Homo sapiens: one gene and its partners. The protein of the gene in region 3 purifies or fractionates together with the protein of the main gene of each other region. This does not show direct contact. Each region holds a gene or a part of one and is shown on either strand. Other genes may lie near its edges. The genes, in order: CST1, LORICRIN, B3GALNT1 and SELENBP1.

What was found.
Region 1: the proteins of B3GALNT1 (region 3) and CST1 purify together in Homo sapiens (affinity purification with mass spectrometry; 3 studies listed by BioGRID and IntAct, with this or other methods). This does not show direct contact.
Region 2: the proteins of B3GALNT1 (region 3) and LORICRIN purify together in Homo sapiens (affinity purification with mass spectrometry; 3 studies listed by BioGRID and IntAct, with this or other methods). This does not show direct contact.
Region 4: the proteins of B3GALNT1 (region 3) and SELENBP1 purify together in Homo sapiens (affinity purification with mass spectrometry; 3 studies listed by BioGRID and IntAct, with this or other methods). This does not show direct contact.

The regions. Positions count from the first base shown.
Region 1 is NC_000020.11:23,747,347-23,755,690, reverse strand, and holds CST1 (cystatin-SN precursor), read left to right. Parts: upstream 1-4,755; 5' UTR 4,756-4,824; coding exon 4,825-5,052; intron 5,053-6,561; coding exon 6,562-6,675; intron 6,676-7,791; coding exon 7,792-7,875; 3' UTR 7,876-8,129; downstream 8,130-8,344. UniProt on the Homo sapiens protein: Human saliva appears to contain several cysteine proteinase inhibitors that are immunologically related to cystatin S but that differ in their specificity due to amino acid sequence differences.
Region 2 is NC_000001.11:153,254,171-153,263,083, reverse strand, and holds LORICRIN (loricrin), read right to left. Parts: upstream 3,398-8,913; 5' UTR 3,351-3,397; intron 2,158-3,350; 5' UTR 2,135-2,157; coding exon 1,196-2,134; 3' UTR 960-1,195; downstream 1-959.
Region 3 is NC_000003.12:161,095,350-161,102,349, reverse strand, and holds part of B3GALNT1 (UDP-GalNAc:beta-1,3-N-acetylgalactosaminyltransferase 1), read left to right. Parts: intron 1-718; exon of another isoform or gene 719-905; intron 906-1,116; coding exon of another isoform or gene 1,117-1,211; intron 1,212-7,000. UniProt on the Homo sapiens protein: Transfers N-acetylgalactosamine onto globotriaosylceramide. Plays a critical role in preimplantation stage embryonic development.
Region 4 is NC_000001.11:151,369,086-151,377,068, reverse strand, and holds the start of SELENBP1 (methanethiol oxidase), read left to right. Parts: upstream 1-4,363; 5' UTR 4,364-4,427; coding exon 4,428-4,431; intron 4,432-7,090; exon of another isoform or gene 7,091-7,169; coding exon of another isoform or gene 7,170-7,299; coding exon 7,300-7,356; intron 7,357-7,514; coding exon 7,515-7,627; intron 7,628-7,879; coding exon 7,880-7,983. UniProt on the Homo sapiens protein: Catalyzes the oxidation of methanethiol, an organosulfur compound known to be produced in substantial amounts by gut bacteria. Selenium-binding protein which may be involved in the sensing of reactive xenobiotics in the cytoplasm.

The DNA of each region.
Region 1 (8,344 bases), on a different chromosome or scaffold from region 3:
ATTCTTTCCTAAAACTGGGCCATGAAGCCCTCGCAAGAACAGGAGGTCCAGGGCTGGGGACTAGGGTTGAGGACCAGGGCAGAGGAAGGCTCAGAGGAGCCTAACAAGGGTTTGGTCAAGGTGAGTCTTGTCACTGGATCCAGCTCTTCTGTGACAGGAGGAAAGGGCAGGCAGGGCCACAGGAGGGAGCAGGGCTGTCCTGATGGCCTCTGGCTCCAGCTCCAACACTCAGTGATTGAGTTGAACAGGATTCCAAGCAGGAAGAGGAACCAATCTCCACAGTCACTGCATTTTGCTAAAGGAATTGATATTTAAGGTTACACAAACAGTGACAGGGAAGTCCCAGCAGTGACCCAAACAGGATAAGAAAGTCTGACCACCCAGAGATGTCAAGGAGATGACTCACCTCCTCAGAGTCATCTGTTTTCCTCATGGCCAGGCCTCTGCAGGCTGTAGCCCAGGGAGTCAGATGGATCCCTGGCTGCAGCAGCCAGCAGCCCGAGTTCCGGAGGCCGCCCCTACTCCCCTCCATTCATATGTGGTTCTTCAGTCAGTGAATCTGCACTGACAAATGCTCTTTTTGATTTTTGAAAAATAAATGTTAACTTGTACTCCAGAGCCAGGAATACCATTCATGTGCTGGTCCCTGAGAGAAAGGATTCTCTTTCTCCCCACGGAGTGCAAAACAATCAGACCTGACACTGGGCTCTGCCCTCTCTTGCCTTTCCCAGCCGGGGCTGCCAGCAGGCTTCCCCATGAGTATCAGTTTCCTAATGATGTGGAAAAGCCAAATGTGGTACCAACATGGGCCCATAGTTTAGAAGCATCCACATGTCCTAACAGAGCCAAATGTGTTACCAACATGGGCCCATAATTTAGAAGCATCCACGTGTCCACGATGTGTGAGGAGAGGGAGAAAAGAAGGAAGGATGGAGTGTGAAAGAGATGAGCTTGACCCCAGAGAATTCCAGGCACTCCATAAAGGAGGCTCCTGGGCTTCCCATTTGAGAAGCCACCAAATCCTGTGGCTGTTCAGTCCCAGCTCCTACCATAGACCAAACTGTTAGTTGCTCAAAACCCAGTTGTGCAGAATCTCAACTCTTGGCCAGCTTGTCCTCACCACTTGCACTTTTACATGATGCTTTCTGCGCTTGGTCATTTATTATGGTATTGTTTAGTGTTCACTTATTATTGGTCATTTATTGCAGAGAACTTCTGCCACTCACCTAATTTCTCATCCTACTAATTCAGATAATCAGATCAGTTCACCTGTGCAGCCTAGGGGAACACAGCTTTCTCTTTTGTCACCTAGCAGAAGGAAAACATGCCCCCTCCTGGGCAGCTGGACTCCTCTAGGTTACATGGGTGCTGGAGGCCCCAAGCTTGTTCCTCAGTCCATGGTTGCTATCTGGCCCTCTTCTAGTGTGTCCTTAAAACTGTGGACTATAGAAATCAGGGAACAAAGTGTTCTGCCATTTTTTTTAGATGGGTGTTTCACTGTGTTGCACAGGCTGAAACTGAACTTCTAGACTCAAGGAATCTTCCTGACTCACTCTCCTAATAAGCTAGGATTACAGGTGCAGTACCACACCTGGCTACTCCATCATTTTTAACCATGTTGATACATCACTGCTGAAGTCTGCTCATCTCTGCTGGTCTTAACTCCCAGATACTATGCTTTAGAAAGTAGCCTCTTTCTCCAGATGCATGACAGACACACCATTTGCCTAAGGTCATCAAACATCTGGAGCAGCTGGCCAGCTACCTCAACCTGCTACTTCCTATCACTCCATACTGGACATCGCACTTGTACCTCCTCCTAAGAGCAATGTACACTGGTATTTTTCCTACTGGGATTAGAGAGCTTGCTGCATCAGAACAGCTGACCCTCCCTGCAGTGCATGCCAGTGCCCAGACAGAAGATGACCACTGGTGGTGTCATCACATACAGGGCACAGGTCAGCACTCTGGCCTCCCTCCCTCATACTCCACCCACCAGCACATTCTCGCTATTTGGGTTACCTGCATCTCCTTTCCAATGATTAAAACAAAACAAAACAAACAAACAAAAACAAACAAAAAAACAAGAGGATTGCTTGACCTTCAGTTTACCCTCTGCACAGCATGTCTTCCTGAGCCTGGACTCCCAGCTGTCCCAGGAAGGTGGGAGCCACAGAGGAGAACTAACTCCTACCCTTTGGAGATGACCATTCTGCTCCCAAACACCTGGTAAGGGACTTCCTTCTCTTTCCCTTCTTTGGAAATCTCTCCCCATTTCCTGTCTAACTAGGAGGCATATGTGCAGCTTTGTTTGAAGACCTTCCCTCCTTCACCCAGCAGTAAACACCTTCGGTACACCTGCTGTATCTGCCGGGCTGCACGGCTATTCTAGGGGTGCTGGATTCACAGTGGGGTGAGATGGTCACCAGGCCTCAGGTAACAAGGTTCCCTGTACTAATACTGAACATGAGCACCCATGAGTAATATGGTTCCCAATGCCGGGTTCCTGCTGATCCAGCCCCAGCCATGTCCCAGCCCAGGATGACTCTTGGCCAGCTTGTCCTCATCACTTGCACCTTTATGTGATGGTTTCTGCACTTGGTCATTTGTTTATTATAGTATTGTTTAGTGTTCTAAACAGGTCTGGGCTGACACTGGCCAACGCTCACCTCCACCACTCCTGGGAGAGTCCTCTGGGTGTCCTGCTAAGGTCCAGGGTTTCCTGTAGCTTCTGGCCAAGCCTGCCACCTCCCCATAAGGGCATTTGCCACAGGGTCACCTTCAGGCATGGAGGGTGGGGTTGAGAGAACAAAGGGAGCAGCTGTCTGTTCAGAGCCTCCTTCCACCCTCTCCTCTCCTGGAGTCACATTCCAGCCCAGGCCCACAGCATCCCGAGCTGGGGGCTTTGTCAGCCCATAGGACACCCAACTGACCAAATCCTCTCAGTCTGCGGAGAAGGAGAACTCACAATCCTGGCAATGAAGCAACTCGGGGGCCGCCGGAAAGCCACACTGGGCAAAGGACAAAGACACACATGGGCTCGCTCTGCAGGACTCCATTCCTGGGAAGCTCAAGGACAGGCGACCAAGGAGTCTATGGGGCCGGATGGGGACTGCCAAGGTGGGGTGGGCACGAGGGTGGCTGGAAAGGCAGGAAGATACTGTCTGGGGCAAGGCAGATGTCACAGGTCTGGATAAAGTGGTAACACAAGTGTATGCATTTATGAAACACCCCAGATTGAGCACATACTATTAGGCATTTTATTGTATGCAAATTCTACCTCATTTAAGGCAATTTTTAAAATATCAGGTGAGTCTTCCAAGCAGTGAACAGAGGAAAGGAGCCTGAAGCATGGCTGCCTAGGACAGAAGCAAGAGAGACCTGTGGGTTCCCACATTCATCCCGTGGCTGCTGCTCCCTTTCCTGACACCCCCACTGCCTCACAGGGGTCTCCGTGCACCTTCCACCGGGCCCCACCCACATTTACTGTGAGACTCCAGGTCGTTCCCTTCCCTCCTCATACCCCCTCCAGGAGCTTCCACTTTCTGGAGCAGGCATGTCCCAACCCCACCTCAGGGCCTTTGCACTGGCTGTTCCCCACTGCCTGGGGCTTCTCAACCTCTCCAGTCTCATAGAGACCACCCTGACCAGGGTCCAGTGGTCTCTCTCTAGCCCCTGTTCTATTTCACTTCCAAAAGAGTGAGCATAACTCCCTGACCCTAATTTTTGATCGTAACCTACCATCCCCTACACACATTGTGTAGGAATGGACTATGGAGTTCCATAGAACCAGCCACATGTGCCACAGGATACTTGAAATGGGGCCAGTCCAAAATTACTTCTGGTCTAAGTGTTAAAAATACACAGGGAATTTCAAAGATTTACAAAACCAAAAAAAAAAAAAACAAAAAAAAAAAAAACATAAACGATCTCATTAATAATTGTTCCCATTAGCTGAAATCACATTGTGGCTATATAAGGTTAAATAAATATTTTAAACATTACTTTCACCCATTTATTCTCATCTTTTAAAATGCATCTACTAGAAATTTTCAATTGCTCGTGAGTTCGTGTCACATGTCTGTTGGGCAGCAGCTCTGCAATGTCACCTCTATGGCTCATCATCCAGGTTCCGTCTTCAAGCCCTAGACCTCCTGGCACGGGGAGTAGCTGGTGATAGGTTTGCTTATTGAATAATGAATTATGAAAAGAGAATCCAGTGACCTTTTCCAAAAAGGTTAATTCCCTTAAATTTGGCAAAGAAATTCTCCACATTAGGGTATGGACAGGGTCTTCTGGAACTTTCTGAAATAATCTCCCTGTTCCAGAGATTCAGAGACTGTGACCAAGTGCTCCTGGATGCCCCTGATATCTGAAGACCCTGGGAGGCCAAGCCCTGTATTTTTCCCCTTTCTGAGCAAACAGGAAGTCACATAGCTTTCACAGTCAAAGGACCAGTGTCACCTCTGTGGAGACCTGGGTGACTCAAGCTTGGGAGCACTGGGGAAGAGAGGCATGGCTCGGGGAGGCTGCAGTGAGGACTGGAGTGGGGAGGAGGGGGAGATGGAGGAGGAGGCCTGGGAGGGGCAGGGGGAACTTAGGCAGGGAGGGAGCTTGTAGTAGCGGGGGAGTGAAAAGAGAGATGGAGAAAGAGGGGATGGGAAGAAAGAGGAGGAGGAGTCAGGGGTGGGGCATGGAGGTGGGTGGGGCTGGGCTGCCAAAGCAGGATAAATGCACACCTGCCTGCTGGTCTGGGCTCCCTGCCTCGGGCTCTCACCCTCCTCTCCTGCAGCTCCAGCTTTGTGCTCTGCCTCTGAGGAGACCATGGCCCAGTATCTGAGTACCCTGCTGCTCCTGCTGGCCACCCTAGCTGTGGCCCTGGCCTGGAGCCCCAAGGAGGAGGATAGGATAATCCCGGGTGGCATCTATAACGCAGACCTCAATGATGAGTGGGTACAGCGTGCCCTTCACTTCGCCATCAGCGAGTATAACAAGGCCACCAAAGATGACTACTACAGACGTCCGCTGCGGGTACTAAGAGCCAGGCAACAGGTAGGTGCTCCCTCCACCCCAGGGGTCCTGGGTCCCAGCCTGGTTTGTTCCCCAACCCCCAAGAGCATTCCCAGCAAATCAACACTGATACATTCATGATCTAATGCTCAGATTCATTCAGCTTTCCCTGGCTCTCCGCTGATGCCCTTCATGCCTAAGCACGCTCCCCGGCCGTGCACAAACTCAGCTTCCTTTAACCTGCAGCAGCCACTGTGTCTGTACCATGACTGTGGCATTTCCCAGGGTCCAGCAGGTGTGGATGGAGACTGTGCTTACTCTGGGTGGGCTTGATGCTGCTCAGGATGAGATCCAGGCCATGAGGTTCATACTCCTCCCTGAGTCCTCTCTGCAGGGGCCACACAGGAACCTGGCTCACTGTTCTGCAGAGCCCTGCTTCCCCAAGTCACGCCCCTGGGCACAGCCCCTTATGGCTAGCGGCCTTCACCCTCAGGCCGGCTGACAAACCCCTACAGCCCAGGGCGCTGAGTCCCTGCTGGGGTGGAGCATGCCTGACCCTGCCTCTACCAGCTGATGCAGTTAGACCTCAGCCAGATGAGGACAGTGGTCACCCAGCAGAGCAGAGGAGGGGTCAGGTCGGGAGGGAGCTTCAGCAGGGCAACTGGGCCCAGCTTGACCTGCATCCCATGGCACAGCAGCAAATAGTGACACAGTCTTTAGAGCTCCTCCACCTTCTCCTGGAAATTCAAAGGAATCCCCACCAGCCCCGTTTCTCCTCTTGCAGCTGTCAGCTGGGGCTCTCTCCCTGCATACGAGATACACTCCCTGGTGCCGTGGTCCCCGCTGGCCTGCATCTCCCTTTCAAGCATGACAGTAACTTGGAGTGAAGCACAGGGCATTGCAGACCATCAGGCCCAGAAGCCTATTTTAGACATGGGTAAACTGACACTCGAGGGATCTCAGCAGTTCCTCCTGGTTCCAGAGAGTCCCTCATCCCAGGTTTCTCCACAGCTCTGCCACATTGTGTCTGGGAAAGGCCCTATGCAGGGAAAGGGTTCAATTCTAATCTGCAACTGTAAGACACGCAGGTGTGCTGCTGACTTGAGAAATGTATCTTGAATCTCACACTTGAAATGGTGGCATCCGGGCGGCCCCATTGATCCAAAATATCTGTGTGTGTGAAGCATCTCATTTCCTACTCTGAGTGAAGTAATAAATCTATGTTAAATGGAGGGAATAAGATTTTCAGAAGTTAGGTGAAATTTTGTCATCAGACAGACTTCCTAGAAAAGAGTCAGTGTTCCCTCGCCCCTGAGCCACAGACAGCAGAATTCAATGAATCCTTTTACCCAGCACAGAGAAAGCAATGTTTAAGAGCGGGTATGAGGCTCAGCACCCTGCCAGTTGACAGGAAGAGGGGGCTTGTGTGCCTTGTGTTGACATGTGGGCAGCTCACGAAGCCCCCAAGCAAGTCCAGTGACTCAGCCACAGTGAAGTGCCTGTGAGTGCATGAACTGATGGGGGCGCTGTCCTGTTTTCTCCTGTGTGCAGACCGTTGGGGGGGTGAATTACTTCTTCGACGTAGAGGTGGGCCGCACCATATGTACCAAGTCCCAGCCCAACTTGGACACCTGTGCCTTCCATGAACAGCCAGAACTGCAGAAGGTACGTTCCTGATGCAGGTCCCGGGCCAGTCATGCACTGCAGAGGGGTGCGTATGTGTCAGCCTCTGCCCTACACATGTTTGGAGGGTGTGTGTGTGCAGGTGGGTATGTGGGGAGCCGTGTATGCATGGATGTGTACGTGTTCATGTACTTATGGGGGGGTGTGCATGTAGGTGTGCATGTGGAAAGGTGCACGTGTGTACACACCTGTGCCAGTGTGTGCAGGGAGGTGGATGGGAGCATGTGTGCCTGTGCATGGATGTGTGGGGGGTGTATGGGGCTTTGTACATAGATCCATGGGGATGAGGGGTCCAAGTGAGTTTACGTAGTTGTCCATGTATGTGCAGATGGGGTGGTGAGGGAGGAGGGTGATGTGTTTGATTTGCTAGGAAGGCTTTAGGTTGGGAATGGTTACTATAAGGTCAATTCTGCCTGCTTTGGAGTGTTGCCTGTTGGACAGGAAGAAGCAGCTGTGCGGCTGTGTGCTGGGCAGGGAGAAGGGGCTCTGTCTAATCCCAGCCTCAGGCACCTGCATGCAGCCACAGCCACAGTGATCAGATTAGTGGGACCTAGAGGCCTGTTAGCTGGGAAGCCCTGGACCTGCCCGGCTCACCCAACACCAGCCTCTCCAAGGACCTGCTGGTTCTTGTGAGGTCTCCACTCAGGGGAGAGCCACACTCCCCTTGTTGCCCTTGCCCCATGCCCCAGCTCTTTGAGGGGGAGTTGCCCTGCCCTGGGTTCTTCCCTCTGGCCCCTCTTAGTGCTGGCCTGGGTGCTGGAGGTGGAAGGAGCTGGGGGAACTGAGCTGCCTCCCCATGCCCTGCACCCTTGGGGCTCCCGAGGCCTTGCCCAGGCTACTCCTCACAGGGCTGTGCTGGGACAGGACACTGCAGGCTGGGGTGGGGTCCCAATGCCACCTGGTGACTTGGAGCCTTGGGAGGGGCAATGGAACAGTCACTATTCATTCTAGTTCAGCACTCTGGGACTCAGTAGGGGTGGGTGAGGGCCCAGTGTCTCACCTCCATCCTCCTCACCCAGGCTCTGACATCTCATGCCTGGGCATCTTCCCCTTTAACTGTAACCCACACTGATTGGCCCTCTCTCTTCCCTTTCACAGAAACAGTTGTGCTCTTTCGAGATCTACGAAGTTCCCTGGGAGAACAGAAGGTCCCTGGTGAAATCCAGGTGTCAAGAATCCTAGGGATCTGTGCCAGGCCATTCGCACCAGCCACCACCCACTCCCACCCCCTGTAGTGCTCCCACCCCTGGACTGGTGGCCCCCACCCTGCGGGAGGCCTCCCCATGTGCCTGCGCCAAGAGACAGACAGAGAAGGCTGCAGGAGTCCTTTGTTGCTCAGCAGGGCGCTCTGCCCTCCCTCCTTCCTTCTTGCTTCTAATAGCCCTGGTACATGGTACACACCCCCCCACCTCCTGCAATTAAACAGTAGCATCGCCTCCCTCTGAGTTCTTGGCTGTCTGGGGATGTGCACGCAGGCGGGGTTTCTGCAGTTCCTTTATGAAGCCTCCTTGTCCTGCTGGTGTGGAGATCACAGGAGTACCTGGGAGCTGACGCAGCCACAGCAAGGCCATCAGGGGAGCTGCTGCCACTTTCAGAGACCTGAGCTTCAGAACAGGGAGAGAGCAGCCAGGGACTGGGAACCCAGGCCTTC
Region 2 (8,913 bases), on a different chromosome or scaffold from region 3:
AGTTGAGGAGGAAGACTTTTTTTCCCCCCAGCAGTGATTGAGTAGGAAGGGTACTTTGGCTTTTTGACGTAGCAGGAGTTTTTCTTGAGTAAATCAGTAAATTGGCATTTAACTAGAGCTGGTAAAATCAGGATATGAAACAGAACCTGGAAAGTCCCTGGCCAGGCTGATGTTCTACATCTCTTTTGAGGGCTCTGCAATTAATACATCCCTTGGAGCAACTGTCGCTTCTTCCTTGTTAATTGGAAGCTCTTGTGTTTTCCATGACCTCTTTCTGGTGCCAAGCTTTTACATCTCGTATATGTATGCTGCATCTTCCTAAGTTAGGTAAAGTTCCTTCAAGAGAGCAGGAAACATTCAACCCGAGAAAGCTGATTGAAATTAAAAAAAAAAAAACGAGAGAGAGAGTGAGAGAGCAGGAAACAGCTCCCCTACTACCTCCTCTCCCTACGGGTACCTACTAAAGTGGTCTTGCTCACCCTAGGGGCCCGTAAACATCTGATATGCTTTTTATTTCTCCGTGAGTCTGAGTAGCATGAGCTGGTGCTCCTAATGTGCAGCCACCCAGCTTTCAGACCTTGCAGAATTGGCTTTGGACTGTGAGAGACAGCGTCTTTCCAGGGCAGCCTGTCTTTAAAAAACAGAGTTCAGTAAGGAGACCCACAGTAGCTACTCAATCCACAGGGAGGTGTTTACTGAAGTCTCTCCTCAGGATCTTTGTGTTTTGGGATCACGTCATGATTTTAAGCCGTACACTAGAATGTTCATATGTTTGACCTTCGTTTGCCAGCCATTCCTCCCTCTCCTGGTGACTCCCATCTATCCACTCACCTTTCCGCCAATAGAGTCCGTGCATTTGTAAAATGAATGTAAGTGTGAATGAGCGAATGCAGGAAAGGAGAAGAATGGAATGGAATGGATGAACTTGAACACTACAAATACTCTTGGAGACCTAAAAATTCTCATGAATTTGCAAATTTATTGACTGAGGCACTGGGGTTGGGAGGTAGTTGTACAGAAACCAAAGAGGCTAAACAGCAGAACTAGATGCAGCCGGAGAGCTCAATGGCTTCTTCCAGGTAGGTTAAGACATGAAGGATTTGCAAACCTCGGGTAGCATCATGAGAGCTCTAAGCCCATCGGTGCCCCTGGAAAACACCTCCAACTCCTTCGCCTCCGTGGTACCCTGGGGGATCTATTTGGACGGCCAGGTAGGCGCCTGCTTCTGCTGGGTCTGGTGGCAGATCGGGACGCCCTTGCCACTCCCGGAGCCACCCACGGAGGAGCCGCCGCCGCCGCCTCCAGAGGAACCACCTCCGCAGACGGAGCCCCCGCCACTGATGATGCAGCCGCTGCCAATCCCGGAGGAGCCGCCGCCGCAGCCGGAGCTCCCGCCGCCCCCGCCGCTGGAGAAGCAGCCGCTTCCGCCGCTGCCGCCGCCGCCGGACGACCCCCCTCCGTAACTCGGCTGGGGCGCGCACGAGGTCTGAGTGACCTGCTGCGAGGAGACGTAGCCGGAGCCGCTGCCGCCAGAGGAGCCTCCGCCGCAGCCAGAGCCGCCGCCAGAGTAGCCGCAGACAGAGCCGCCGCCCCCGCCGCTGGAGAAGCAGCCGGAGCCGCCCCCGGAGGAGCCGCCGCTAGAGACGCCTCCGTAGCTCTGGCACTGGACCGCCTGGCCCGAGAAGCCGCCGCCGCCGGAGGAGAAGCAGCCGGAGCCGCCCCCGGAGGAGCCGCCCCCACCGCTGGAGAAGCAGCCGGAGCCGCCCCCGGAGGAGCCGCCGCCACCGGAGGAGAAGCAGCCGGAGCCGCCCCCACCGCTGGAGAAACAGCCAGAGCCCCCGCCGGAGGAGCCGCCGCCTCCGGAGTACTTGACGCTCCCACCGGAGCCCCCTCCGCAGCCTCCAATGCCGCCCCCGCCCCCGCCGCCGGAGGAGCCCCCGCCGCAGCCGCCGCCAGAGTAGCCACCGCCGCCGGAGTAGCCGCAGCCAGAACCGCTGCTACCGCCCCCTGAGCCGCCGCCGCCGAAGAAGCCGCAGCCACCACCGCCGCTGCCGCCGCCACCGCCACCGCCGCCAGAGGTCTTCACGCAGTCCACTGGGGGCTGAGGGGTGGGCTGCTTTTTCTGATAAGACATCTTGTCTGAGAAGGAAGGAGAGCCTGGAAGGGGAGAAGAGAGCATCGCTGGACCAGCTGCAAGAGGATACTTACGGAGGCAGCTGCATCCATAGGCAACATCGCCATCCTCCCAGGGCTCCTTCAGGTGCCCGGAGAGCCCTCAGCGGGGTTTCTTATGATTGCTGCTTTTGGAAAAGTTGAGTTCCTCATTCCCCTGCAGAAAGCCTTCATTATGCTTTAAACAGCCCAGTTAGCAGTGCCCATTCTTTCTCCCAGCTCTGCCTCTGACCACTGTTGTGTGATTTGAGGGCAGATCACCCACACGCCCGCCTCTTTCTCATTTCCTGTTAAATGAAAGGGTTTGAACACTTCATCTTTCAGGCCTCTTCCAATCTCAACACTGATTCTCTGAGTGCAAATAGAAAACTACCACAAACCTCTACCTAGGATAGGAGATTTTACCCATTCCCAGCACAACAGAGAGAGGTTTGTCGGACTTCATTCTATTGAGGGCTGTTGCACTCCATCCTCTGCAGAAGCTCTTAGTTCAAACTCTTGGTCTGTCCCACTGAGCTAGGCCATGAACCAAGGGCTAGTCACTAGAAAAGACAGGCTCTGCTGTGGCCCTGCCTGGAAACAGGGGAAGGACCCTGGTGGTCCTTTGGACCAACATCCCCGACCAGAAGCTATTAGCCATCTCTTCCATGATTTTCTCAAGTCCAAGTTTGGTAGAAGGGACTTTGACTAGTAGGAAGTTGTATTTCCCTCTCAGAACTTCTAACTCTGTAAAACAGCAATTGGATTTCTGTGGCACCTGAAATCCCTCCCATCTGCAACTTTTTTGGATCATTCTCCCTACTCTCTTGAGAGTGGCTCAGCCTCTCCTCCTGACAGGTTCACAAGGTCTGCTCAGCCTGTGCACAGGCTGCCTTGGACAGCCTCTGCAGAGTCCTTCTGTGCCCGGCACCATGCCTGCCCCTATGCGGGTGCCAGAGAGGCAGGAGATAGTCTTGTCTTTGTGGAGTTTACATTCTGGCCAGAAGACCAGAAACACCATCTGCATGGCAGCAGCTCATCCCCTGCTCCTTTCCTGACCGCCCTCTAAATGTGAGTGCTTTTGGGAAGGCAGAGGTCCTATAGCTCCCAAAGGGGAAAGAGGCCCTGGTCCATCTAATCTAGTCAGGCCTGGGCAAGACCAGCTGGGAAAATGAGAGAGTCAGTAGAACCACACTTACCCAAAGCACCAGGAAGGGTGAGTGAGGAGAGAAGATGCTGGCAATGTGAGGAGCACTGATCTCCTGAGGTTATATATAGAGCTCTCCCTGACTCATTGATCCAGGCCAGCTTCTTGTGTTTGGCCTCAGTTACGTGACCCGTGGCTGTCGGCCCCACCTCCCTGTGATTGCAGGCACAGGATGGCCCATTCATGAAGGTTTTGGCATTCTTGAGATGGGCAGCCTGGTGTGTGACTGGCCCCTTCTCTGATGCAACAGTGTGGCAGGCTCATCAGTGGGGTCACCCAGTCAGAGTGGATGGCAGACATTGTTTCCAAAACCTCTGGCACAGGATGCATACCAGGTGACCACAGGGCTGTGCTTGAGGAATAGGTCCCAGAGTCTTGAGGTGCCCTAAGAGAGTCAAACTGAAGATCTCAGTGCTTTATCCAAGGAGTAGGACCTTCTAAATCCTACTGTTTGACTTCTGGTCCTGCTACTCTAAAAATCCTCAAAACTTTAGAACCCGTTACTCCTTTGCAAAAGTTTATCTCCCAGGATTTCATGTGTGTTTTGCTGGGGTGTTTCTGTCCTGCCCACTGGAGGCATGAGTCCCCAGCACCCAGCTCTGGACTGCACACCATAGACAGTGCTGTAACTAATGTGACGTGGGAAGCTACTTTGATTCATCCCCAGAGACAGCAGGCATTTGAGACAGTCTGAGAAGGGTAATCAATACTGACTTTCCTTGCAGCAGAGCAAACTAAAGAGATGGACCATGTGATCCCACAAAGGCTCTTTGGCTCTGTTGTCCTGTGGTGTTGTGTGGCAAAACACTGACCTTAGCCTGAGGGGCAGTCATTGAATGGGATAGACTTGAGATTAGGTGACAGATTGGGTGCTCCCTTTGCTACTTGCCAGCTGTGTCACCTTGGGCAGAGTCATAGCTCTTAGTGCAGTACCTGCACATGGGAGGCACTCAGTAAGTACTTATTGACTGTGGAATGATCAAGCTTTTTGACCCTCAGTTACCTTGTCTATCAAATAAAAATAGTAGTACCTATTTCACAGGCATGTGAAGGGAGAATAGTTATGTTAAGTGTAGAAGGTGATGCTGTCTTTTTTGTTGTTTTCTCATATAACAGCACATCCTTACTTCCAACCTGGCCTTCCCTTGGATACCAAGGCCAGAAAGGAGTCCATGGAGGGATTGGGCAAGTCCAATTCTTCTCCTAGGAGAATAACTCAAAACTTTCTTGTTGACTCTGGACCAGTAGCATCACCTCTGCGCATGCAGAACAGGATGCTGCTTCTTTCATAACCGGAAGTCAATTGGTATTGTTTAAGATACCACAGTCAAACTTTGTTCTGCCCAGTTATGTTTTGAAATGACAGCTCCAATAATAAATTCTTAATTATAGTGCACTTTTAATGATCCAGATGATCCTGATTAGACTGTGGCCATCAGAAACTTGTGGCACTAGTTTCAGTTTGGACAGCATAAACCCAGGTGAACCCAAGAGGAACTCAGGTGCTCTCCTCCTTAGAGGAGACCCAGTAGGGAGAAGACAGGATCTGTTGGAGAAGGCAAGTTTCTCTGCTTGAAGTTGAGGCAGTGTGGAGAATTTGGAGGGAAACAGGCCGCGATTAGTGATTGCTGTGGGTATAAGAAAGAACAGTTTTATTTAGCTGGGCCACATTGGAAAGAGGAGCACGTGTGGACGACGGTTCCCAGTACTGATATGTGTGGTCCCTTGTTGGCCCATTGCTATGTGTTCACCAGTCCTTAGCAAAAGTGTAAGTAAAAGGACGTCAGCAGGGTATTCTTGGGAAAGAAAGTCTTCAATTCTGAAATCATGGCCTTCCTACCTCTTCCTTTAAAAGATGTGGTGACATGAGGCTGTAGTTGTTTCTTTTATGTCCTGCCATGTCAAAATGAAAATTTGGCTATGGTGTAATGATTACCACTTTTTTCTGAGGGAGATATTACTTCTCCATGGAATTCTAAAATTTGGGAACTAGGCCGGGCACAGTGGCTCATGCCTGTAATTCTAGCACTTTGGGAGGCCAAGGTGAGAGGATTGCTTGAGCCCAGGAGTTTGAGACCAGCCTGCACAACATGGCAAGACCCTGTCTCTACAAAAAATACAAAAATTAACGAGGTGTGGTGCCATGCGCCTGTAGTGCCATCTACTCTGGAGGCTGAGGTGGGAGAATCGCTTGGGCCCAAGAGTTTGAGACCAGCCTGGGTAACATAGTGAGACCTCATCTCTACAAAAAAATAAACAAAATTAATTGGGCATGGTGGCATGTGCCCGTAGTCCCAGCTACTCAGGAGGCTGTGATGGGAGGATCGCTTCTGCCTGGGAGGTCAAGGCTGCAGTGCGCCAAGATTGCACCATTGCCCTCCAGCCTGGGTGACAGAGTGAGACCCTGTCTCAAAAAATAAACAAAACGGGAACCTAAAGTACAGTTGACCCAAAATGACTAATCTTCAAATTGTCCATGTTGGCTTTGGGGGGTTCATTTTCTTCTAAGAAATATAGGGTTTTTTTTTCTATTAATTTTAAGATGCTAATTCTTTATTTGTTAATCCAGCCAAAACAAATGTACTGGGCACCATGTTAAGCATCAAAGAGCCAGAAGGCTTTCCAAAGCTATGCATGGGTCTTTTTGGTAGAGTCGCGGGTGGGGATGGTGCCCCATGCCTGCCTCTGCCACCCTATATAGCATTTAATAAGAAAGGATATACATATTTAACTATATATAGTTTTACATACATACATAACTGTATATAGTTTTACATACATACATAACTGTATATAGTTTTACATACATACATAACTGTATATAGTTTTACATACATACATAACTGTATATAGTTTTACATACATACATAACTGTATATAGTTTTACATACATACATAACTGTATATAGTTTTACATACATACATAACTGTATATAGTTTTACATACATACATAACTGTATATAGTTTTATATACATATGTGACTATAGTTTTATATACATATATGACTATATATAGTTTTATATACATATATGACTATATATAGTTTTATATACATATATGACTATATATAGTCATATATGTATATATAACTATGTCACATCAGCCTCTTCTGCATGTTAACTAAATATGTGTACTAGTTACAAGTTATATATATATAGAGTTACATATATATAGAGATATATCTGTAGAGATATATATATATATATATAACTTGTAACTAGTATAAATATTTCGTTAACATGCAGAAGAGGTTGATGTGACATGATACTGAGTACCAGATCTTGTGGCTTTCAGCCCTGAGTTAACCTTGCCTGATATACGAATATATGAACCTGGTTTCTCATTTCATCTTTCTGGAGCAGAAGCAGTAGTCCTAATGGGATATCTGTGTGGGCAGCAACTGATTATCACCTTTTATCATATCAGTGAGGAAATAATGGGACTTTGTAGAATTGTAGAATGACACATAGGTATTTGGGGTTTTGTAAGACTTGGCAGTTCAGATTTTTAAGGTTTATAGCCTTTAGACACCTAACCCTGCAAGGTGTGCTTGATAGCACATTTGACTTCTGCAGTTTGACAGATTAGGACATGGTTCTTGCCTATACTTGTATCCTTAGAGGGGATGGTCCTTAAAGCAGATGCTACACAGTGCCTGGCATGGTGCTGGGCATTAATAGGTGCTCAGTAAATCCCAGTGGAATTGAAGGAACTCTTGAGACCTATTGACTGACTGCGGTTGAGAGATGATCTTGTCAGATGATGAGGAGTGGAGGGTTTCAGCATGGAACTACAGATTAAACCTAGCCACTGTGCAGAATGAACAAGCCTTGTGCAGGGGATCCAAGGCCAGCTATAGAAGTGACACTGGGCTAACACTGGGCTAGTGGAATTTTAGCCTGCTTCCCTGACCACCCTCACAATATCTATCTGATGGGAAGGCCCCGTATAGGAAGTGTGTGTGTGTGTGTGTGTGTGTGTGTGTGTGTGTGTGTGAAGGGTGGTGATTCTTCAGAAAGATGTGGCAGTCTAGGGTGTTAAGGACACATTGGGGCTTATCCACAATCACAGATGCATCCTTTGGAGACAACCCAGCTTCTGATTCATAAATCACAAAAAAGTTGGAGATTTGTTCTTTCTGCATCTCAGCTTAGCTTATCTTTGTGGGAAGCTCACATCTTCCTGCTACAGGCATCTTCAGAGCAAGAGAGAAGCAGGTAGAGGAGACAGTGTGAGGGCCTCCCGCATTGTGATGCACAGCTTGGCCATCTTAACAAGCTATGTTGGGGGGATTTAGGAAAGAGCAGCTGCAAACTACTCTGAGAAGGCTGCTTCTCTGAGTAGAGGCACCTGGCTCCTGGGCCCCAGTCTGAGATTTCATTTCTTGAGCTTGGTGAGCCCCAGTTGGATGGAAGCATGCTCATCACAACCTTGAAGTATCCAGAGCTACACACATGGGTTCTCATGACTGAGTGCTGACTACTTATCTAACAGGTTAAAGGGGCAGCAGGTGGCTGTAAAGAATAAAATGAACACAGGACAGGGGCTTGGGAGCTTTGGCAGGACAGGAGTAGTGCTTGGAAGCCCTTTGTACTGTTGACTTGGAATGGGAACAGTTTTCTCTCACAGTCCTGGCCCAGGAAGTGTCACAGAACTCCAGGTACCTCCTGGGCTGCCATTTTCCTCCTTTCTACTGCCCTTCTGGGCCAACAGTTTGAAGGGGTGGCTGATCCTCGGTGTTACATGGGGAGAACTGCTTAGAGGTGGGTAGGAGAAGGAGAGCTCTGCAGTGGTTCGTGGCTACTGGTGTTCCCTCTCCAGGAAGCTTCCCTGGATTCATCACACCCACTGGTTCCATCTCCCTCACCACTTTCCCTTTCCAAGGCCTTAAGGAACAATTGTACTAGTTACGGTCTGCTAATGACACATCGCTTTGACTTGTTTCTTTTTTCAAGTTATAATTGTCCTTGAAGGAAGGCTCCCTATTAGTTCTTAACTCTGCATCTTAGGATTTAAAGAGCACTTATAGCCCCCTGGGGTGTTATCAGGCAGTGTTGACTCTTACTTGGTCCTCTTTTGGGTGCTCCTGGAGCCCATCATTTTGCTGAGGGTGGGGACCACAGATGAGTTGTTCAGACCTTTTCAAACAGCTTATAGATGCACACAGGGTTAGCAGTGCATCCAGGGATCATGCTTGCCTGGGCTTGGACACTTCCTCTGTGGACAGACTCTTCAGTTTATGGACCACTGTCACATAGGTTCAATCCTCCTAACAGTTTTGTGTGCCCAGTAATGTTATCTTCAGTTCAGGATGAGGAAGCAGCTTAGAGTGGTTAATGGATTTGCCCAAATTCTCACAGCCTTTAAGTAGAAAAGCCAGGATTCTCAGTTCGTTTGATTCTAAACTGTGTGTTCTTTTCAAGCACCGCGTACCTCTCCTCTTTGGATCAATAGGAACCAAATGAAGGAATGACTCCCCAGCCAGGCTGGTTTGTGTCCTCTGGGAGGCAGGGAGCAGAGGATGCTTTCATGAATGCTCCCAGCTACTCAGGG
Region 3 (7,000 bases):
TCCTTGAATCTCTGAGACATTAAGGAACTAAAAGAAAGCTAGAGTAGGTTATCGGTTTCCCACCCCATGTATTTCTGACTCTGAACACAGGTAGGTAGGTAGGATCTCATTGTCTGTTGCTTCTCTTTCTGTGTCTGTTATCTGGAACTATATTTAGCTATTTTGTTTCCAGAGTTTGTTTTCAAGAATGGAGTTACCACTTTCTATGCAAAAGCAGAATGGAGTAGCTGAGACAGACCCTAGGGCCCTCAAAGAAGATATTTACTATCTGCCTTTTATGGGGAAAAAAGTTTGCCCGCTTCTGGGATAGAACATGGATTTCTGCTAAACTCAAGCTGTGCATTTTGAATAGTCTCATAAAAGTTAGAATACACAAGTCCTCCTGTTAAAACATTTCACAAGCCTGCAGCCACCTATTCCTGCAGCATGTCATAGGGCTCAAACCATATCTCATATCTGGAATTGTATTTGGCTGCTATTTTGGTTACAGACTTTGTCGTTGAGAATGGAGTTACGCACTTTCTAAGATAAAAAATTACCGTCCAGTTTTATCTCTTAGTATTAAATAGTTCCCTTCTCCATACTGATAACAGGCTCTAAATTTATGCCTCTATTGGGCACTAACACATTCTGAGAGTGCAAACTCAGTTCCCTGCTGTGGATTTTGGTCACTAGTTTAGAAACATTTGAGCTGGAAAGCCTCCCCCATGTTCTCTAGGTGGGCCTCACTCATGATGTTTGGTGTGAAATGTGTCGTTGTGAGTCTTCCACCACGCTCTGCATTGAGTGTCGGCAACTTGAGGACAGGGCTTGTCTGTCTGCTTCCCCACTGCTGCCCCAACCTCTAACACAGGTCCAGAACACTGAATGAAGGAATGAAATACCCTCAGATGACTAAAGCAAAGGTAATTGATGGCTTAACTAAGAAGAATAGTAAAGAGCTGTAATATTCTCAATTTAGGGTAGTAATGGGAAGAAATGTTAACTGCAGCAGCTCCCCGATACTCTTCCTCCAGTGGATAAAGCTCTTTGTAACAAAACAGACACAGAAAGCCCAGCTTTCAGGGCAGTCTTGCTGCTGTTCTGCCTGACTTTGTGATCTTTGCTCTGCTCCAGTTTTCTTAGCTCCCTGGACCCGGTTGACCTGTTGGCTCTTCCCGCTGGCTGCTCTATCACGTGGTGCTCTCCGACTACTCACCCCGAGTGTAAAGGTGTGTCTGCTTCTGCTGCATTCTTTGCTCCCTGCCCAGGAATCTCAGGAGGCTGTGAGATTAGATGTGAGGTTGGTCTCTCCTGGGGCACTGTGCCCTGGCAGAAGGAGCTTGGCATTTGGAGTTGAAGGGCTTGAGTTTGGATTCCATGTCTTCCTCTACCTGGGCTGCACTGTTCCCTGGAAAATGGGATTGATGTTAACACAGATTTTACAGTGTCATGAAATGTGCTTTGTAATTTGTAGTTAGAAGCACTATAAACTTGTATAGTGCCCAGAAGTTCACTATGCCTTTAAAAAAAAAAACAGCCCTGCTAAAAATCCTAACATGTATTGCAAATTATTAAGAGTGATTTTTATGTTCTTATTGGAATATGCAGATAGGGCAGAAGCAAAAAGAAAATTGCGGCTAAATTTTCCTTCTAAAGTCCTGCTGCTTTTGTTTGCTCCTCATTTTTCTCAGCCCAAACCCAGAAATCCCTAAAAGATTCTGCATGCCACAACCCAGAAGTCTATCAGAGATTCCCATATACAGGGATTGTTTTGCCTACAAGAAAGTAGTTTGTATAACAGTATATATAATATGTCTTACTTACATGTGTCTTTAAAAACTCAGATGTCTTATACCTCAGCACACTGAATGAAGCAGCAGGCTTCCCTTTTAATGAAGCTTTAATGAAAGACATTCTCCCATACATCTTAGAAGATACCTGAGGGTGGTGGTGCTACAACCAGCAGAGTTTCAAGGGCAGAATTGGGAAATGGTAATGAGTATAGGTATTTATACTCACTGTCTACCTAAAACTGTGTGACAACTACAGAGAGTGGTGCTCGAGGTGGGCTTTTTTCTTAAACTCAGTAAATACTTCAAATTCATTCTTAAAAATTGAACAATTTAAAATATGCCAAAATGAAACCTTTTCTATGAACTACATTTTAAACATCAATAACAAAGTTGTGGAACCTTGTAGTTAGAAGGGACCTTCGACGTTTGTTAGAATAACACTATCTTTGGTTTCTCATTTGCCTTCTGGAGTGATACTTACATATTTTATTATTCAAAATAATTTGAAAGTATCTACCATGGCACTTCTAAGCTTTTCTTGTCTCCAGAACAGAACATCCCCAGATCCTTCAGCCACATGTCATGCAATCCTTATGGGAGATGATAAACCCTTCACCAAATGAGTTACCCTCTTCTAACTTGTTAGTGACCCTTTCAAAATGGAACTCATATGGGGCTATGGAATTATGACCCCCTTTGCCCAGATGCTTTTCCAGTTTCTTGAACCTAGGAGTGTATTAGGGGTGTGTGTGTGTGTGTGTGTGTTAGAGAAGGGGGACACAATCTAGTATTCACTTGTAGAGTTTCTGTTAGCACTGCCATTCATTCACAAGTACTTGGGAGTGCTTCCTATGTGCCAGGCACTATGCTAGGTGCTGGGGACACAGTGTGCAAGAATGAACATCATCCCTCTGCTGGTAGGGCCAGATGGTGCCTGAGAGGTATCCTAGCCCAATGTCCTAAAATTCTGTTGAGAAATAACTCCTCAAATTCAATGACTTGGCCTCCCTGCCAGAACTAGAATCCTTGTTTCCTGACTGCCCAGTTATTCCTTTACTTCACCACCTTTTATCATATTGGACTCATACTCAGCTAAACTGTAAGGTCTGTTTAGGCTGCTGTTAAAATGGCCCCCCATCCTGCCCTTGTGCAGCTGGTTTTTCGAACTCTGACATAGGACAATAAATGTGTTCCCATCAAATTTCATCTTGCTGTCTTTAGCTTTTTCTCACCTGTTAAAACCTTTTGGATTGTAATTACATCTTTTAATGAATTTGTCATTTTTTTTCCTGCCTACAAAATTGAATAAGCCCACGTTCTTTAATTAGAAATATGAAATGAGAAAAGGCTAAAGATAGGCCTGTGATTTTTTTCCCCAGTTTGACAAAGATGCTCCAGTCAACCTTAGAACATCAGCAGGAGGACAAGTCTCTGGCACTTTTGTGGAACACTATTCCCAGAGTCCAGCACAAGCCCAAGAAATGTTTCTTGAACAAATGACTGCATGAAAAATACACTGGCTATGATGGATCAGCCAATTTTTAAGCCATCTAGCTACTATTATTACTCACATTTTCCCATTTTGTTCAGAAGGACTTTAAGTGTCCAGCTCTCTTTACAGAGAAGCTTGATTCTTAGGTGTTACCTGCGAGTTACCTTGATCTTCTATTGAAGAACCCTATTGAAAATGGGGCTTAGGATAGTCAAACAGAGCATTCTCAGTGAATCTCTTCTAGCTCCTGATGGTCATTGTGTTTGTGTCATAAGTGTTCACTAATGTTTACAGAGTCTCAGCAACTTATTCAGGGTTATTTGGAATACAGATGCATTAACATTAGTCCCTTCAGGAATTTCTCCATTGCCAAAAAGTGAACTTGTTGGAGAGGACTTGTTGAAAACTGGGTGAGCATGATTTGCATGGAAATTGGACTAAACTTCCCTTTCTTTAAAGTTCCTGGTTTAGCCACTCGAATAGCTGGCATTACAGGCATGCACCAGTATGCCTGGCTAATTTTTGTGTTTTTAGTAGAGATGAGGTTTCACCATGTTGCCAGGCTGCTCTTGAACTCCTGACCTCAAGCAGTCTGCCAGCCTTGGCCTCCCAAAGTGCTGGGATTACAGGCATGAGCCACCATGCCCGGCCAAAAGTTTCTCGTTGAGCTCTGACAACTCTTCACCTCTGAAGAAGAACAGAGGTGCTGCACTGTGAAAGTATGAAGATACCAGGCCAATAGGATAAAACAAGGCAGGAGGGAAGCTTTTGTAGTGCAGTGGCTACAGACTCCACTTGGGGTGGTGAATATACCTGAGTTTTTAGTGCTGCTTTGCAGGCTCTGACACCCTGACTCCTGAACAGGTGTCCAAATTTCAAGCTGGTTAACTGAAAGATAAATGTTATAATATTGGTGCCTACTTCATAAGATTGCGGCAGTCATCAAACGAATGGAAATATAAAACATACTTACTACAGTGCCAGGACCAAGCAAGGACTATTGCTAAAATTTTGGAGAGAGGGGAGTATGAAGAAATTGGATAGAGTAGAAAGCAGGTTCTTTTTAATGTGAGCCTATTTACCCTGACAGAGTAAAGCATATTTCATTTTTAAGTGTTATCAAATTAAGCAGATATACCAATTGCTATTCATTCATTCAGTAAATAAAATTTCACTTCCTATTATATGTCCAGCTGTATGCTCCAAAGTAAGGAGAAAAATGTAAACCATATCAAATATGCACAATCCTCAAAGTAGCCTGACACCACTTGAATATCACACGCACTACAGCTGGAAAAATTTCTTGTATTTTGCAGCTCTCCTCCAGCTGCTACAAGTGCCTATGGTGAGACTTTTGACAGTGTGAGTGGTTCCCAGAAAAAATGATGTTCAGTTGTAGAAAGACCATGGGGCAGAAAGAAGGATCCCAGGAGAGGGGAGCACATGTGCAGAGGCGGAACCCAGAAATGTGCGTTTGGCTTTGTGGACCTCTACCAGTAGTTCTTTGGGGCTCGTATTTGCAGGATAGCAGAACATCAGGCACTGGGAGATTCTAGGAAAACAGAAACCTTGGACTCTAGGAGAAGACTTACTGATTTGGAAGGAGAAGGTGGATCCACTAAGATTTATTTGCATGTTTAATTGTATTACAGAGCATGTCATGCCATGTAAGACACATTTGGGAGTTAGGAGCAAGGTTTGTAAAGGAAATGTAGACAAATAATATATGTAGAGGAAGCATATAGTGTGGACTCTAATAATAACAGCAATACCATCTACTTAGCCCTTACTGTGTGCCAGCCCCATCCTAGATGTTTAGCGCGTATTATTTCATGTAGCTCTGGCAATAAACCCGCAAAGAAGGTATTATTGCTCCCATTTTACAGATAAGGTAACTGAAGCTTAAAAAGGTTGAGTAATTTGCTCAAGTGGATTTCATTGCTTCTCAAACTTCAGTATGTCCACAAGCCACCTGTTAAAAATGTTTCTGATTCACTAGGTCTAGGGTGGGGCCTGGGGCTTTGTATTCCTAATACACTCCTAGGTGGTGCCCATGCACTTTGAGTGGTGAGGGTCTAGGCATCACATTCAAATCACCTGGGAGCTTTAAAAATACTGCCACCTGGTGCTCGCTTTGGCAGCACGTATACTAAAATTACTGCCACCTGAGCCCTGCCACCCTCTGAAACTCTGATTTAGTTGGCCTGGGATCCCGCTTGGCTTCCAGTATTTTTCAAGTTCTCCAGGAGATTATAATGTGCCGCAAAGTGAGAACCACTGGGTTAAAGAAGAGGGGAAGAAAAAGTAGTGGTCAGATGGCACTGGTTGTGTTTATTTCTAATATAATCAGGGGAGGGCCTCAAACACAAAGCAGCAGTGAGTTGTGAAAATAATTAGATGTTTAATTGACAAGTCTAATTGAATGGTAGAGTTTTATATTGCTTTATGAGTTAATGTGTTTAGTTTGAAAGGGTAGTGGGGGAATTTCCCTCAAAGATGTGAATTGATAGTTATTTTCCCTTTATAAGGAATATACATGATTGGTGTAATGATGATTTGAATTAAACTTAATATGCACAGGACCTTTTTTTAGGCAATTAAGATTTCCACTCCCTTTGCAGTATTTTATGTAGAAGAAAAGTTAGAATGTTGCAAAACTGACAGTAGTTTGGTAATTATCTATAATAGTTAGCATATGGATGATCCTGACTCTAGCGTGCTTGGACCTAAAATTTAACTGAAATTTGTTTCTTGTTTTTTTGGACCTTTTAAAATGCACATGATCAGAATCAGCATAGCCTATTACAATAAGGTTTTGTTATTAGAAGACAGCTGAAGAAAAACATAATCAACAAATTCAGGTTACTTTTGGATTCAGCTTATTCTTAGGAATATTTACTAAGTGGATAAAAGTACATTACCAAATCATTTGCAAAGTATGCAAATATTACAGAGAGCCTACTATGTGTTAGACACTGGACATATAGCAGTGAATAAGTGGGGTCAGGTTTTCCCTCTCTCCAATCTTATATTCTTTTGAAGGGAATAGACAATAAACAAATAGAAATAGATTTTTAAAAGTCTAGACAGGGTTAAATGCTGAGAAGGTGTTAGGTTTAAGTCCCAGCTGAGGTCCAACAAGGTGTTAGGTTTGAGTCCCAGTTGAGGTCCGAGGGGAGTGGGTGGATGGGCGAATTGCTGAAAGAACACTCGGGGGGCTTTAGGCAGGTGAAATGTAGTTTTATTCAGCAGCTTTTTAATCAGCAGCTTCCTCACACTAACTGTTTCTCACAGTTTCTTTATCTTGGCTGTTTGCTTCAGCTTTGTGGCTCCTCTTATGAGCCTGCTCCTGCTGCCCCCAGCCTTGCAGCTGCACTCCCTGGCCTATACTACCAGGGTTAGCAGCTTAATTTTTTCCCTCTGGGCATAAGTCCCCACTTCCCGCCTTCAAGGCAATCCACTCTTCCTTACAGGGGTCAGTAGCATTACTCTCTCTGGGCATTAGTGCACCTCCAAGCCATGTCAAGCCAACCCAAACCCCATGGGCAGCATCAGCAGGGCAGTTATACCTTTTACAAACAATAGCAACTCAAAGCCAAGTATAAACTTACAAAGACAGGTTATCTAACAAGTGAAGTATGCACCTGTGCCCTAAACTTGCTAAGTCACTTTGGCCCAGATATTCGCCTTAGCCTATTCCTTAACCAAAGCACATTCATATACTTTATGGAAG
Region 4 (7,983 bases), on a different chromosome or scaffold from region 3:
GCTTATAATTTTTTTTTTTTTTTTTTTAGATGGAGCCTCCTCTGTCGCCCAGGCTGGAGTGCAGTGGCATGATCACAGCTTGCTGCAGCTTCCACCTCCCAGGCTCAAGTGATCCTCCTCCTTAGCCTCCCGAGTAGCTGGGACTGCAGGTGCACACCACCACACCTGGCTCATTTTTGTAATTTTTGTAGAGAAAGTGTTTCACTATGTTGCCCAGGCTGGTCTTGAACTCCTGAGCTCAAGGGATCCACCTGCCTCAGCCTCCCAAAGTGCTAGAATTACAAGTGTGAGCCACCTCACTGTTTATTCTTCCTTCTCTTTAAGCAATAGAGGTAAGGAGTCAAGACGATAACATTTGCTTTTTAAACACCTTCTGTCCCCAACCTTAGCATCTCCCTGGATATGATAGGCCCCCAGCCACTCTTCAGTGCTGCCCACTGGGACACAGGCTTCTGATAAAACTGAGTGGCGCTGCAGTACTAGGAGCTTAAAGGGTTACCACTCCAGAGACATTCACTGTAGCCAGGAGGTGAGAAGAGGCCATCTGGTAGTAACACAAAGAAATAAACTGCTATTGGTGAAGTTTCAAGCATCAATGGCAGGCCAAAGGGAGGATATTTCTGAGTGGATTGGCAGTGAGGAGAAAGTCCTCCAAGTGGTTCTCAAATCATGCTTTTTATAGACAGCCCTGGCAGAGGGCATTAAAAAAAATTATTTCAGCCGGGCGCGGTGGCTCACGCCTGTAATCCCAGCACTTTGGGAGGCCGAGGCAGGCAGATCACGAGGTCAGGAGATAGAGACCATCCTGGCTAACACGGTGAAACCCCGTCTCTACTAAAAATATGAAAAATTAGCCAGGCGTGGTGGCAGGCACCTGTAGTCCCAGCTACTCGAGAGGCTGAGGCATGAGGATGGCGTGAACCTAGGACATGGAACATGCAGTGAGCCAAGACCTTGCCACTGCACTCCAGCCTGGGTGACAGAGTGACGTTCCGTCTCAAAAAAAAAAATTATTTCTCTTCTCTGAGCCATGTTATTACCCTGAGCAGCAGGCTTTGAACTCACTGTCATTCAGAAACAGTGCATTAAGTGTGGGCAACGGAGTGAATTGGGAAAACTCTGTTTCCTGAATGTAAGATGAAGAAAAAGGCATTTACAGGCCAGACACGGTGGCTCACACCTGTAATCCCAGCACTTTGGGAGGCCAATGCGGGTAGATCACAAGGTCAGGAGTTTGAGACCAGCCTGGCCATATGGTGAAACCCCATCTCTATTAAAAAGTACAAAAATTAGCTGGGCGTGGTAGCATGCGCCTGTAGTCCCAGCTACTCAGGAGGCTGAGGCAGGAGAATCACTGGAACCTGGGAGGCGGAGGTTGCAGTGAACAGAGATCACGCCACTGCACTCCAGCCTGGCGACAGAGGGAGACTCTGTCTCAAAAAAAAAAAAAGAAAAGAAAGAAAAAGAAAAAGGCATTTAACCTCTCCAGCTGTGCCATGGGCGGAACCTGAGCTAATTGTTAGTGTGTAGGGCCCGGCATGGCGCCCGTCACCTCTAGTAGCAGGTTCTCAGTAAACGCTACTCCCTTCACATCTCCTACACATCCCTGAGGGTATGGAGTTGGTCTGTTAATATAAGGAGAAATGAGCAGAACAGGGCTCTGAAACTCTACTTAGCTGGTGAAAACTCCAACCTCTCCAGCCAGTCCTGCCTCAGACCTCCATGGGCTGCTACCTTTATGCCTTACAGGCATTTTGTGCACGTTTGTGCTTTTTGGTTTGTTTGTTTTAGTTCTTTTGTACTGTTTGTTTGCATATAATTCTGTACCCATACATACCAAGCAACCCCACCTAATGCTGCATCACCCCTACATTACCCTACTCCTTCACAGCACTTATCTGAAGTGATTTTATTTATTTGTGTATTTGCATGATTATCAGTCATCTCCCCTAAAAAGTCATCTCCATGAAGGTAGCAACTTTGCCCTGTTCACCACTTTGTCTACCATATCTGGCTCAAAAGAGGTGCTCCAGAGGGAAGGATAGGCAGCTGGTTGGGAGAGCTGTAGCTCAAAAGGGACCGGGGCCAGTCCTTCTCCCCAGCATGGGCCCTCACTGTGGCCCTCACCTGCACTGCATGTGACCTTCCATCCTTCCTTTCATCTTCCTTATAGTTTTTCTTTTAATATATTTATTTGAGCTTTTAGTTACAAAAGCAGTACTTATTATTTTTTTAAAAATCCAAAATTAACTTTGGGAGACCAAGGCAGATCACTTGAGCCCAAGAGTCTGAGACCAGTCTGGGCAACATAGTGAGACCCCCCATCTCTACAAAAAAAATTTAAAAATTATCCAGGTCAGCCAGGCACGGTGTCTCAGGCCTGTAATCCCAGCACTTTGGGAGGCGGAGGTGGGTGGATCACTTGAGGTCAGGAGTTCGAGACCAGCCTGTCCAACATGGTGAAACCCCGTCTCTACTAAAAATACAAAAATGAGCCAGGTATGGTTGTGGGCACCTGTAGTCCCAGCTACTCGGGAGGCTGAGGCAGGAGAATCGCCCCTCTACCTTTACTGCCTCCCTCTGTAGCCCAGATTAGGATAACTTCCCCAACCACCTGCTGGCTGTAGAGCAAGAGTTCAGGGAGAAAACCACAGGCAGAGGTGAGGGGTGCCATGGAGTTGCTGCAGAGACCAGCCAGGTCAGAGCTCAGGAGCATGAAAGAGGTAGTCAATGACAGACCACAACAAACAAAATAACAGCCTTTTTTTTTTTAAGTTAATGACTCAATAATTTTTTATGAGAAGGTGGGGATAAAGTTTCTTTCTCTTTCAGATCTTGGGTGGTGGACTAACCCAAGCCAAGAAGCCGGAGAATAGAGAGGAGGCAGGAGATGGAGACCTCAGGAGGAGGAAGAGGGGAGGGCCAGAGGGAAGGGTGAAGGCAGGGTGAGTGGAGGTAGTCAGGACAGGAGGAAGCTGGCAAAGACAAGGAAGCAGCCTTCAGGGCCTTCCCCGTGGGGCAGCTGCACACACAAGACTCTCTTTGATGCCTGGCAGGCTGATGGCACAATGGTGAGGATAATAGATGCAGGATGGAGCCAAGAGGGGTTGAGTGGCGCTGGGGATAAGAGAAGACCCTTGCCCCGGGCAGCCACAGGGAGTCTTCCTTGATGGGCACATGATCCCTCACTGATGGGAGCCAGGAAGACAGATACCCAATGCACCAAGGCCCAATTTTGCTCCCCTTCCCCCACTCTGGTTTGGAAACCCTGTATTCTACTTGCAATCTCAAGCCCAGACTTTATTCTTTTTCCTAGCCAATAAAAACTTCACCCCAGAGCTTTTATCCAAAGAGTATGAATATCTGGAATAAGAGGGCAATCTTAGGGAAGAAGTGACCCTGGCTGATGGGCCCACAGTCCCGGGTGCCCCTAAATGCTAAGAGACAGGTCCAAATACAAAGACGAGCATTTGGAGACACAGGAACACATACGTGCGCAGGCTTACACAAGCACATGCACAGCCACATAGCCACACACTACACATACACAAGCACTTATGCACATGTCCACACAGGCGTAGATACTCTAGCAAGCACATACTCACAGAGGCGCGCACACACACACACACACACACACAGGCGTAGATACTCTGGTAGGCACATACAGAGGCGCGCACACACACACACGCACAAATACACACAAGCACACTCACAGGCACATTCACACACGTGGAAATTCACACACAGGCACAGATACACACTCATGCAGGCACGTGCACGAGCAACACGCAGGTATACAGGAACACACACATGCCCAGACACACAAATCCACACACACCCAGGCACCCACTAAAGAGCACGAGCTGGTCAGGGGCAGCGGCTCACACCTGTGATCCCAGCACTTTGGGAGGCCGACACGGGTGGATCACCTGAGGTCAGGAGTTTGAGACCAGCCTGGCCAACATGGTGAAATCCCTTCTCTACTAAAAATACAAAATTGCTGGGCATGGTGGTGGGTGCCTGTAATCCCAGCTACTCGGGAGGATGAGGCAGGAGAATCACTTGAACCCAGGAGGCAGAGGTTGCAGTGAGCCGAGATCGCACCACTGCACTCCAGCCTGGGCAAGAGTGAGACCCTGTCTCTAAATAAATAAATAAATAAATAAAGCACAGGCTCCCACACATACACACTTAAACACATACACGCACACCCCATAATTCAAACACCAGTTGCCCTAGGCCACTTGAGAGTATCCTGGCCAGCTGCCCTGAGTAGTTTACTCTGGGCTACAGCCCGGGCCCTCCTCCTTCTCTGCCCCACCCCCAGCTGGTTGTATAAATTCCCTCCCTTCGCTCCTTCCCCGGAACAGCGGCCTCTGACACCAGCACAGCAAACCCGCCGGGATCAAAGTGTACCAGTCGGCAGCATGGGTAAGGAGAGGGGTTTCCAATCACCCATTGCCTGCTCTGTCTGCCCCTAATTTGGAAGGCCCTCCTCCAGAAAATGCTAGAAAACCTGAGTGGGGAGCTGGGGAGGGAGTAGTGGACTCTGCTTCATTGTCCCCAGTCTGCACACCCCCTCCCCCACCACCCCACTGCATTTCCCAGCTCAGCCAAACTTTCTGAGGAAGACGGGCAGAGGCACTGCTGGGAGATGGGATCCTGGGCCCTGACTTGGCTCCATCCAGCAGAGGCTGGGACCAGGGTGCCTTTCTGCAGCTGGGAAAATCAGATGGGCGCTCTTAGAAAACACCACTAGGTCCCTGGCCCTCACATAGTAGAGAGGTGATCCTGATTTCAGCCATGGGCCAACTTTGTACTCCAGCGAGGTAGGGAGTCCAAAGCCTTTCTGTGCCCAGGTCACTCTCTAGCTACTCCACACAGCAAAGCTCTCTGGGAGGGAAATCAGAGACCCCCACACTCTTTCACTGGGGACCTGTTTCAATGCCTCCCCCACCCCTAAATCCCCCTTGGCCCTGCTATTCCTCCATCTGTAGGCTTCTGGGTGACAGGCTAAGAAGGAACTGAGGTTTGGTTGGGAGGTCCTTCCCCGCTCGGGGCTGGCTCTTGAGCTGGCAGAATGCCGAGCTGGCAGAATGCCCAGCAGCCAGCCTGACATGGAAAACCCACTTGAGCTTTCCATGAGTCCATCCCAAACCCAAAGCTGCTCCGAGACCTTGCTTGAGATGTTTCAGATGGGGGTATTCCCCAGAAAGAGGAATGATGCTCCCTGGGGCTGCAGTGGCATGCCAGGCCTGACCCTAAGAAATGCTGGGGCTGGGGTTGCTGGGGTGTGGGGTGGGCCGAGGCTGCAGAGCGGGCAGCTCCATCTCTGCACTTTTACTTCCCTCTCAGCTTCTCCCTAGCTTTGTATTTTTTGTATCTCTGTCTTGAGGTCTTGGAGTTTTAAAATCTCCTTTCCCTTCTGTATCCAGCAACCTCCTTCCCCACCCCCTGTCATCTGGTGCCAAGCCCCGACTTAGCAAGATTGTGTAACAGAACCAGTCTCCTTAACTCCTGTGAACTGGACCTCTCTCTCTCTCCCTGCCCCACCTCCAGCCCTCTCGCTGGGCATCGAGCACTCCCTGGCATTCTCCTCTCCTCTGGCACAGCCCTTCCCATATTTACACAGTAATTCATTATTTTTTTTTTTTTTTAGTCAGAATTTCACTCTTGTTGCCCAGGCTGGAGTGACTGCAGTGGCGTGATTTCGGCTTACTGCAGCCTCCACCTCCCAGGTTCAAGTGATTCTCCTGCCTCAGCCTCCCAAGTAGCTGGGATTACAGGTGTATGCCTGTATTTTTTAATACAGGCTAATTTTTAATACAGGGTAATTTTTGTATTTTTAATAGAGACAGGGTTTTGCCATGTTAGTGAGGCTGGTCTCAAACTCCTGACCTTAGGTGATCTTTCCGCCTCAGCCTCCCAAAGTGCTGGGATTACAGGCATGAGCCACCGCACCCGGCCTAATTCATTTTTATGAAAGGCCTTTGGAATACATTGTCTTATTTGTCCTCCATATCTACCTAGCAAAGTAGGTAGAATATCATTATTGCCCACTTTTCGTAAATGAAGAGGAGAAAATGGAGAAACGGGGCGTCAAAACTGGGACTTGAAACCAGGTTTCCAGACTCTGAACGCTGTTGCTGCCTCTCAGCTTCCTAAGTCTCTTGGCTGCTGCGAGTGGGAGTCCCAGGCCCCAGTGGAGGCCCCACTCTGCCTACTCCTGGCTCCCCACTTGCGGCCCAGCTGTGAAGGCAGAGGCTGGACTGGCCACAGGACAAGGCAGGAGACAGGGCCCAGGCCTGTGGACTCCACTCCAGGGTTTCTTTCAGCCTGCCACCCCCTCTGGGTATTCTTTAACCCCTGCTCCCCAGCAGGCCCCAAACTCTGATGCTGGGGTGCTGGTAGCTGTGATGTCCCAGCCCTACTGCACATCTGCTGACTTACATCCTGGAGATTAGCATGGCCCCTCTTGCCAGACTTCAGAGATAGGGAGGGTTGCTCCCTATCTCTCTGGTGGGCAGGCCTCTGGGCTCTCCAGAGTTGGGCCAAACACCTTACTTTACAGATAAAGGAAGTGGGGCACACCCAGGGGTAGAAACCAGCCTGAGGACTTCCAGTTGGTATTAGCCCCAGACCCTCGGTTATGTAATCCAGCCCTTGGCTAGCAGCCTGGGATCAGGACCCAGGGGAGAGAAAAGCAGGAAGTGGCCTCCCCCTGATATAGAAGCATCTTGGTGAAGGGAGCTGAGCAGGCGCCACCCCACTCCCTGAGAGCAGCTCCTCAAGAACAGCCAAGGGTGCCTGGGCTTCGACCAGACAAACACAGAGCTGCACACCTACTGCACCCTCGTGTTTACTTCTCGTAAAAGCCCACTGTGAAATTCTTACCATCTCCATTTTACAGAGGATGCAGAAATTGAGGTCGAGGAGCTTCAGTACTTTGCCCAAGCTCCCCTGGCTAGTCAGTGGTGGGCTGGGGTTGGGCCCCGAGTCCGTGTCATATTCACTACACCACACGACCCCGGCTGCATCAGCCCTCCTCCCACCCTCCCGGGGCCCTGCTGGACTGTCTGTCCACCTTCAGGTCATGTGTCTCCAGCTCTTCCCAGCACAACCTCACCCTCCTCAGGGCTCTGAGGGGGCGGAGAGGACAGGCCAGAGCGATGAGGCTGGAGTGGGGACCTAGGCCAGCCGCACTGCCGTGGCCCGCTGGGATGTGTGCTGCAGAACGTGCGGAGGGAGCCTTCACCCTCCAGAGCGTGGCCCAGCCAATGCGCCCCATTGCTTCCACAGCTACGAAATGTGGGAATTGTGGACCCGGCTACTCCACCCCTCTGGAGGCCATGAAAGGTAATTGCCCATGGTCTGAGAGCCAGCGCCCTACTACTGATTCCACAGCTGGGGGTGGAGGGACTTCAGACCTAGCCCCCACCCTCTGGCACACCCAGCACTTCCCCTACCTTTCCTTCCCACCCTGCCGTCCCTGCTGCCTGCTTTCTACCGTGCAGGACCCAGGGAAGAGATCGTCTACCTGCCCTGCATTTACCGAAACACAGGCACTGAGGCCCCAGATTATCTGGCCACTGTGGATGTTGACCCCAAGTCTCCCCAGTATTGCCAGGTTAGGCGGGGCTTGGGCGCCAGCTACTTTGAGACCATAGCTGCCCTCATCCCTGGCCCTGGGCCCCCCCTTCCCAGCTCCATCCTTCTTGGCCCTCCCTGGGGATGCTTGTGCACGCTCAACCTGGGACAAGGGGAGTGCTGAAATCCAGCCTGTGCCGTGCTTCCAAACCAAAATGAGTCCACAGGGCGCCTCTTCCAAAAGTGGACAGAGGCGTGGCCTGGGGGAGCACCACCTCTCCCCGCATCCTAGGTCATCCACCGGCTGCCCATGCCCAACCTGAAGGACGAGCTGCATCACTCAGGATGGAACACCTGCAGCAGCTGCTTCGGTGATAGCACCAAGTCGCGCACCAA